2 linked regions of the Homo sapiens genome follow. The protein of the gene in region 1 purifies or fractionates together with the protein of each later gene. This does not show direct contact. Each region holds a gene or a part of one and is shown in the gene's direction. Other genes may lie near its edges. The genes, in order: MSRB2 and UBE2V2.

The links.
Region 2: the proteins of MSRB2 (region 1) and UBE2V2 purify together in Homo sapiens (co-immunoprecipitation; one large-scale study listed by IntAct). This does not show direct contact.

What each region holds. Positions count from the first base shown.
Region 1 is NC_000010.11:23,098,443-23,102,265, forward strand, and holds part of MSRB2 (methionine-R-sulfoxide reductase B2, mitochondrial precursor), read left to right. Parts: intron 1-3,823. UniProt on the Homo sapiens protein: Methionine-sulfoxide reductase that specifically reduces methionine (R)-sulfoxide back to methionine.
Region 2 is NC_000008.11:48,046,408-48,050,230, forward strand, and holds part of UBE2V2 (ubiquitin-conjugating enzyme E2 variant 2), read left to right. Parts: intron 1-3,445; coding exon 3,446-3,571; intron 3,572-3,823. UniProt on the Homo sapiens protein: Has no ubiquitin ligase activity on its own. The UBE2V2/UBE2N heterodimer catalyzes the synthesis of non-canonical poly-ubiquitin chains that are linked through 'Lys-63'. This type of poly-ubiquitination does not lead to protein degradation by the proteasome.

The sequences.
Region 1 (3,823 bases):
GGAATTTGAGTTTATTAAGGCATAATTCAAAGTAAAGCTGTGTAGTTATCTCATGCAATAGCAGCAACCGATAAATGTTTTCATAGTGAAGATAGCAAGAGAATGTAGAGGGAATCTGGAAAATGTGTAGCCCCCAAAGGATGAGCACGTGGTGCAGAGGACAGAAAATACCTGCACACACACAGAAAAGGACACAGCCAGTGTTGAAACCTCTCTCTAGCCACGGTAGCCAGAAGACTTGACTCATTCCCAAGTGAGAGACCTTGTCGTGTATCTAATTTACACGTGCCTAAATTGCTGTTTGATAAAACTGCTCAGAATTTACTCATACTGTAATTTTTATTTAAACTTTGGTTGTTTTCTAAAGCCCCAGTGTGTTCATTTGCTAGGGATCCCATAACAAAATATCACAGGCTGGGCAGCTTAAACGATGGAATTCATTTTCATACGGTTCTGGAGGCTGGAAGTCCAAGGCCAAGACTTGTCCTGAGATTTGTCCTGAGACCTCTTTCCTTAACTTGGGGATAGCTGCCTTCTTGCTGTGTCCCCAGGCGGCCTTTTCTCTGCTGTCCCTTCCTCTTATGAGGACACCAGTCTTATTGGACCAGGGCCCCCTCTTAATGGCCTCATTTTGACATGATTGCCTCTTTAAAGGCCCTGTCTCTAAATGCAGTCACATTTTAAAGTACTGGGGATTAGGACTTCAACATATGAATTTGGAAGTTGGCGGGCAGGGAGTGTCACAATTCAGCTCATAACATCCAGGTCAAAGAAACCTCTTAAAGTGATACAGCCCACATATAACCTGACCTGGGTGTACCCAACTGAGCGTTCATCATTTTGCTATCAAAGCAAAGTCTGTCTGCCCTTGACTGAGCCTTCTAGGCTGGCAAATTCTGCAGCTAAATGTTGCATAATTGGTGCTTGAACAAGAACTAGTCTAAACATTATTGCCTACCCACTAAAGTTTTCGCACACATTAAAAATAGTGTAAAAGGTCCACATTGATAAGGATTAAAAGAACCATTAAAAATGTCCTTTCCATATTGTACTTAGATGAAGGCTTAATTCTTTTGGTTAGCAATTTAAATACTAGTTATATATTTTAAACTTAAAAAGAAAATATTATGGCGTGGCACTGTGTCACGCACCTGTAGTCTCAGCTACTTGGGAGGCTGAGGAAGGAAAATCGCTTGAGTCCAGGCATTCAAGGCTGTAGTGTACTTTGATCATGCGTATGAATAGCCATTGTGCTCCATTCTGGGCAACACAGTGAGACTCGGTCTCTTAAAAAAATTAGGGCAGAGGGAGAAGGTGGTGTCTGAAGAACAGATAGTCACTCTCTAATACGTGTAACAAAATATAGAGGTGTGGGAGAGGGAGCTGGGAACCCAGACCAACTCAAGCCTTAGGTTCAAAGCGAAAGAAGTACATGTTTTAAAGCTCAATTCATGAGAGTCCCACTGACTTTTAGCTCTTCTCTAATTCCCACTTTCCAGTGTCAGCTACTATAGTGTACTGCCTGTTGAGTCACACTAAGGACAGTGCTTCCAGGAGACAATAGGGTTTTTTTCTAAGCCCATTCCACTTCCTGCCTGAAAGGAGACAGGAAGATAAAGCCAGCTTCACAGACTGTAAATTCCAACCTTTGTACCTGAAGTTGGTCCTCTTACCTATCTACAGGAATAATGCAAGATCTTTGCCAAAGCTAAGAGGAGGGTGTTTTATCATGATGCGTTTAGTCCTTTCCTTGACAAATGTCAATGATAGCCAGAGATTAGGTCTCACAAATTCCCCCACGGGACCAGAGTTTAGATCTGGGAGGAGGAACCCAGGACATACACTCTTTCTAGCAAAGCCTGTTCTTGCTCTTTTTAGTGCCTCTGGCTAAAGCATTCTCTTTTTAAATCATTTGAGGTGGCCAAGAAGAGACAGGATCCTGAACAGAAGTGGCAAAAAAACAGACAGGAAGAGGCTTGTATTAGTTTGTTTTCACAGTGCTATAAAGAAATACCAGAGACTGGGTAATTTAGGAAGGAAAGAGGTTTAATTGGCTTACGGTTCCACAGGCTGTACAGGAAGCATGGCTGGGGAGGCCTCGGGAAACTTACAATCATGATGTAAGGTGAAGAGGAAGCAAGCACATAAGCAAGCACATCTTACATGGTCAGAGCAGGAGGAAGAGAGAGAGGGGGAGGTGAACTTTTAAACAACCAGATCTCTCGATAACTCACTATCACGAGAACAGCACCAAAGGGGAAATATGTCCCCATGATTTAATCACCTCCCACCAGGCCCCACCTCCAACACTGAGGATTACAATGTCACATGAGATTTGGGTAGGGACACAGAGCCAAACCATATCAGAGGCAGTCACTCGTTCCACTGTGACAAGATGGAAAAAGGGTAGATGTAGGTATTAGTAAGTGTGATGGTTTGGTAGCCAGAAGGTTTGTGGCTTTTGATTTTGCAAAAGTGAAATCTGTTGAGAGGAAGGGGAGACGTAGTAGATAGATACCATGGTTTGAGGAGAGTGGAAAAGGTTTTTTGTTTTGTTTTGTTTTGTTTTGTTTAATTTCAATAGCTTTTGGGCGAACAGGTGTTTTGTTACATGAATAAGTTCTTTCTTTAATGGTGATTTATCAGATTTTGGTGTACTCATCACCCGAGCAGTGTACATGGTACCCAATGTGTAGTCTTTTATTCCTCATCCCCCTCACACCCTTTCTTCTCTGAGTCCCCAAAGTCTATTGTATCATTCTTATGCCTTTGCATCCTCATAGCTCAGCTCCCACTTATGAATGAGAACATACGATGTTTGGTTTTTCATTCCTGACTTACTTCACTTAGAATAATAGTCTCCAATTCCATCCAAGTTGCTGTGAATGCCATTATTTTGTTCCTTTTTATGGCTGAGTAGTATTCCATAGTCTATATATATACCATCATTTCTTTATCCACTAGTTGATTGATGGGCATTTGTGTTGGCTCCATATTTTTGCAATTGCAAATTGTGCTACTATAAACGTGTGTGCAGGTATCTTTTTCATGTAATGACTTCTTTGCCTCTGGGTAGATACCCAGTAGTGGGATTGCTGGATTAAATGGTATTCTACTTTTAGTTCTTTAAAGAATCTCCACACTGTTTTCCATAGTGGTTGTACTAGTTTACATTCCTGAGAGTGGAAAAGGTTTAAAACACTCATTGCAGAGAAATGGGAAGAGAGCTGACTGGGGAAAGATGGTTCCATGGTTCACTGAAACCCCAGTGAGATGAGTAACTTTGAGTTTATAAGGACAACCCTCTCCCCAGGTGGGGGATTTTCTCCAGTAGTGCTTGATGGTACACGGGTAGCCATGGAGAAGATAGTTTTTTAAATAAGCTTTTTTATTTTGGAATAATTTTAGATTTATAGACAAGTTATAAAGACAGTACAGAGTTCTCAAGACCCCTCATCCGGATCCCCCTGGTAATCTTCTGACATCATCATAGTACATTTGTCAAAACTGTCTCTGTCTTTCATGACCTTTACAGTTTTGGGGAGGACTGGTCAGGTTCCTTGTAGAATGTCCCTCAGTCTGGGATTGTTTGATGTTTCTCCTCACAATTAAACTGGGATTATGGGCTATTAGGAAAAATCTCATAGAGATGCAGTTCCTTTCTAGATTCATGTGCTCTTCCCCATCTCTCTCCCCAACACTGAGACACACACGCGCAAACGTACACTCACACACTCACACTTACTTATTTATATTTCTCTTGCTAAACCATTTGAGAGTTGCAGACATCATGACACTTTACTGCTAAATATTTCGGCATGTT
Region 2 (3,823 bases), on another chromosome or scaffold:
GCGTCTGGCCTAATTTTGTATTTTTAGTGGGGACAGGGTTTCTCCATGTTGCTCAGGCTGGTCTCAGACTCCCGACCTCAGATGATCCGCCCACCTCGGCCTTCGCAAAGTGCTAGGATTACAGGCGTGAGCCGCCGTGCCCGGTTGAGAGGAGGAAGACTTTTAACATGTTACATGGTTCGTTGTTTTTTATTTTTATTTTATTTTATTTTGAGATAGTCTCACTCTGTCAACCAGGCTGGAGTGTAGTGGCCCGATCACACCTCACAGCCTGGACCCCCTGGGCTCAAACAATCCTCCCACCTTAGCCTTCTGAGTAGCTGGGACTATAGGGGTACACCACCATACCTGGCTAATTTGTGTGTGTGTGTGTGTAGAGATGGGGGTCTCACTGTGTTGCCCAGACGGGTCTCAAACTCCTGGGCTCAAATGGCCCACCTGCCGTGGCCTCCCAAAGTGCTAGGATTATAGGCGTGAACCACTGTGCCTGGCCAGTTGTTTTTTATTTTTTGTACTTTATTGACTAAGGTCCCTCTTTTTTTTTTTTTTTGAGATGGAGCTTTGCTCTTGTTGCCCAGGCTGGAGTTCAGTGACACTATCTCGGGCTCACCGCAACCTCTGCCTCCCAGGTTCAAGTGATTCTCCTGCCTCAGGCTCCTGAGTAGCTGGGATTACAGGCATGCGACACCATGCCCGGCTAATTTTGTATTTTTAGTAGAGATGGGGTTTCTCCATGTTGGTCAAGCTGGTCTCGAACTCCCAACCTCAGGTGATCCACTCCCTTCGGCCTCCCAAAGTGTTAGGATTACAGGTGTGAGCCACCATGTCCAGCCAGATCCCTCATTTTTTATGTTGTTCTAGTATTTATTTGGATTTATATGATTAGCAGTTTTGTTTTTCTATGTTTTTGTGTTCAGTTTTCTGAAGCAATATTTGTTGTCACTAGAGTTTAGTACTTTTTCAAGTTTTCTCATATTTAATGAAGGTACTGTCCCCATCTTTAAAATAGAAACAGTGTGAGAATTAAGTGAAATAATGATTAGATAATAGGAGAATACCTGAGTACTTGACTTAGTAAATATTAGTTTGTTTTTCTCCTCTTTTTTTTGCTCTTGCTTTTTATTAGATAACAGAAAAACTTGACTGTTAATTAAAATTTTTTTTTTTTTTGAGACAGTCTTGCTTTGCCACCCAGGCTGGAGTGCAGTGGCGTGATCTCAGCTCACTGCAGTTGCCACCTCCCGAGTTCAGGTGATTCTCCTGCCTCAGCCTCCCGACTAGCTGGGATTACAGGCGTGTGCTACCAATTTTTGTATTTTTAATAGAGACGGGGTTTCACCATGTTGGCCAGGCTGGTCTCGAACTCCTGACCTCAGGCAGTCTGCCCGCCTTTGGCCTCCCAAAGGGCTGGGATTACAGGCATGAGCCACCACACCCAGCCTGTTAATTTAAAATTTAGAGGGGATAAAATCAAAGGTGTCAGAAGTTAGGGTGATATTTACTGTAAGAATTGGATTAGATTAATAGGCTAGCTTTGGGATTAAATTTTTTTTTGTTTACATAAAATCTTTCAGAAAAGAGCTTTGGGTTTTTTTTTTTTTTTTTTTAAACAAAAGGAATTGAGGTAGAATTTACATGTAGTGAAATGCACAGATGTGCCATGAGTTTGACAAATGTAGCTTGTTACCCCTACTGAGATACAGAACATTCCTGTCATTCCAGAAAGCTCCCTTTGCGCTTTCCCACACCTGAGAGATTTGCGTGTTGTAGAGCTTTGGTAAGTAGGGTCATGTAGTGTGTACACTTACGGTTCTTTACTCAGCATGAAGTCTGAGCAATTCAGTTGTGTTATCTCATGTAGTAGGAGTGTGTTTCTTTTTATTGTTGAATAGTATTTTACTGTATGGATATACCACAATGTGTTTATCACTTCTTTTTATGGACATTTGGATTTAATCTACTTTCTTGCTTTTACAAATAAAGCTGCTATGGGCATTCTTGTAGAAGTCTTTTTGTGAACATGTGTTTGTTTCCATTTCGCTTGGGTAAATGCCTAGGAATAGAATTGCTGTATCATAGGGGAGTCTGATATGCATCCAGATTGGAGAATCACAGCCAAGATAATCATGAGATCTATCTGATTTTAGTCATTTTTATATATTGAAAGTGCTGGGGATATTATTAATATTTGCTTGCTATTAATCTCAGATGAGTTTTATATAGCTCTTTTTTTCTTAAAGTATTGAAATATTTAATAACATACATATAACATTGTTGCATAGGTTTTACATTAGAGTAGTTTAATACTGCAAATCTGACCTCCATTTGGATAGCTCTTGTTTATGGGGATGGGATCAGTTTGAGTAGGTGAGATCTGTAGATGGTTGGTTAGCTTCCTCCCTCTCTGGTCTTATACAGCAGCCAGCAGATATTAAATTTTTCACTTTCATTTATTTATGTATATATTTTTATGTTATTTTAATTATAATTTAGAAAATTTAAAGTTTCAATAATTATAATTCTCTTTAAAACAATTTTTTTTTCTTTTTAATCTCTTGAGTCAAGGTGAGGATTCATTTATTTTTTACTTTGCTGTTTTAATGGTACACTAATAAGTTAACAGAGTGAACAAAAGCCATAGCAGAAAGAAGAGTTAATTTATAGGCATGAAAATAAGCCCTGGATAATCTAGAAGCTTTAAGTTTGATACCTATTTGAAAATGATGTGTAAACATAAAGTTTGCCATTGTATCTCTGAATTCAGATAATGGGATTTAATGAACCTCAAAATTAATGAAGTGGCAACGTAAGTATAACTAACAGGGGACATAAAATAATTATGTTTTATTGCTGCAAAATAGTATAATATGGGGTTTTCTCTTTTGCTAGAAGTTATTGATTGCCATATTTAGTAGGATAATCATATAATTTGTTATCCAACAAGACCCTTTTGAGAATGAAAGGAGGCACTGTTAATAGTCAATTCTGGGACAATAGGAATAAGCAGAACTGTTCTGTAAAACAGAAACCTTCATATATGTTTAACACAAGTCTCAAGTAGCCCCTCCCTCTACAATGTAAACTTTTTAGCAAAATCTAAATTTAAGTGGTTTGCTTTTTCGTTTTTCCTTCTTCGTTCTAATTTGTTACAGGCATCATTTTTATCACAAAAGCAACTTGGGATCATATTGATAATACTTTGTAGAATTAATTTTGTAAAATCTCATGGAATTAATTTTGTAAAATCTCAATTTTTAAGTATGCTTATTGCATTTTTTCTCACCATATAGGTGAAATAAATTTGAATGTAGAAAAATAAATTCTTAATCATAAACACTGTCTTACGTACATTCATATTGTACTTTCCCTTTTTTTTTTTTAGCACTTAGACATTAATATTTTAGGTATTGTTATTTTGATTATCTTTTTGTTTTTTGCCTTCCAGACAAATTATGAAAACAGAATATATAGCCTGAAAGTAGAATGTGGACCTAAATACCCAGAAGCTCCTCCGTCAGTTAGATTTGTAACAAAAATTAATATGAACGGAATAAATAATTCCAGTGGGATGGTAAGTTAATATAGTCATTTTGGTTTTATATAACATAATGTATAGAGTTATATATTATACGTACACACACCATAATATATGTAAGATATTAATATGTAGTTAGGAGAAAGTTTTTAAAAGAGGACCTTTGTTAAGCCAAAAGTCTAAAGAAGGTTGCATTATGTTGTTTTTCTTTTATTAATATAAATTAGGCCATCCTTAAAAACCTTAATGTACTTGCCTAGAATAGATGCATGTGGTGGTTAAAACTTT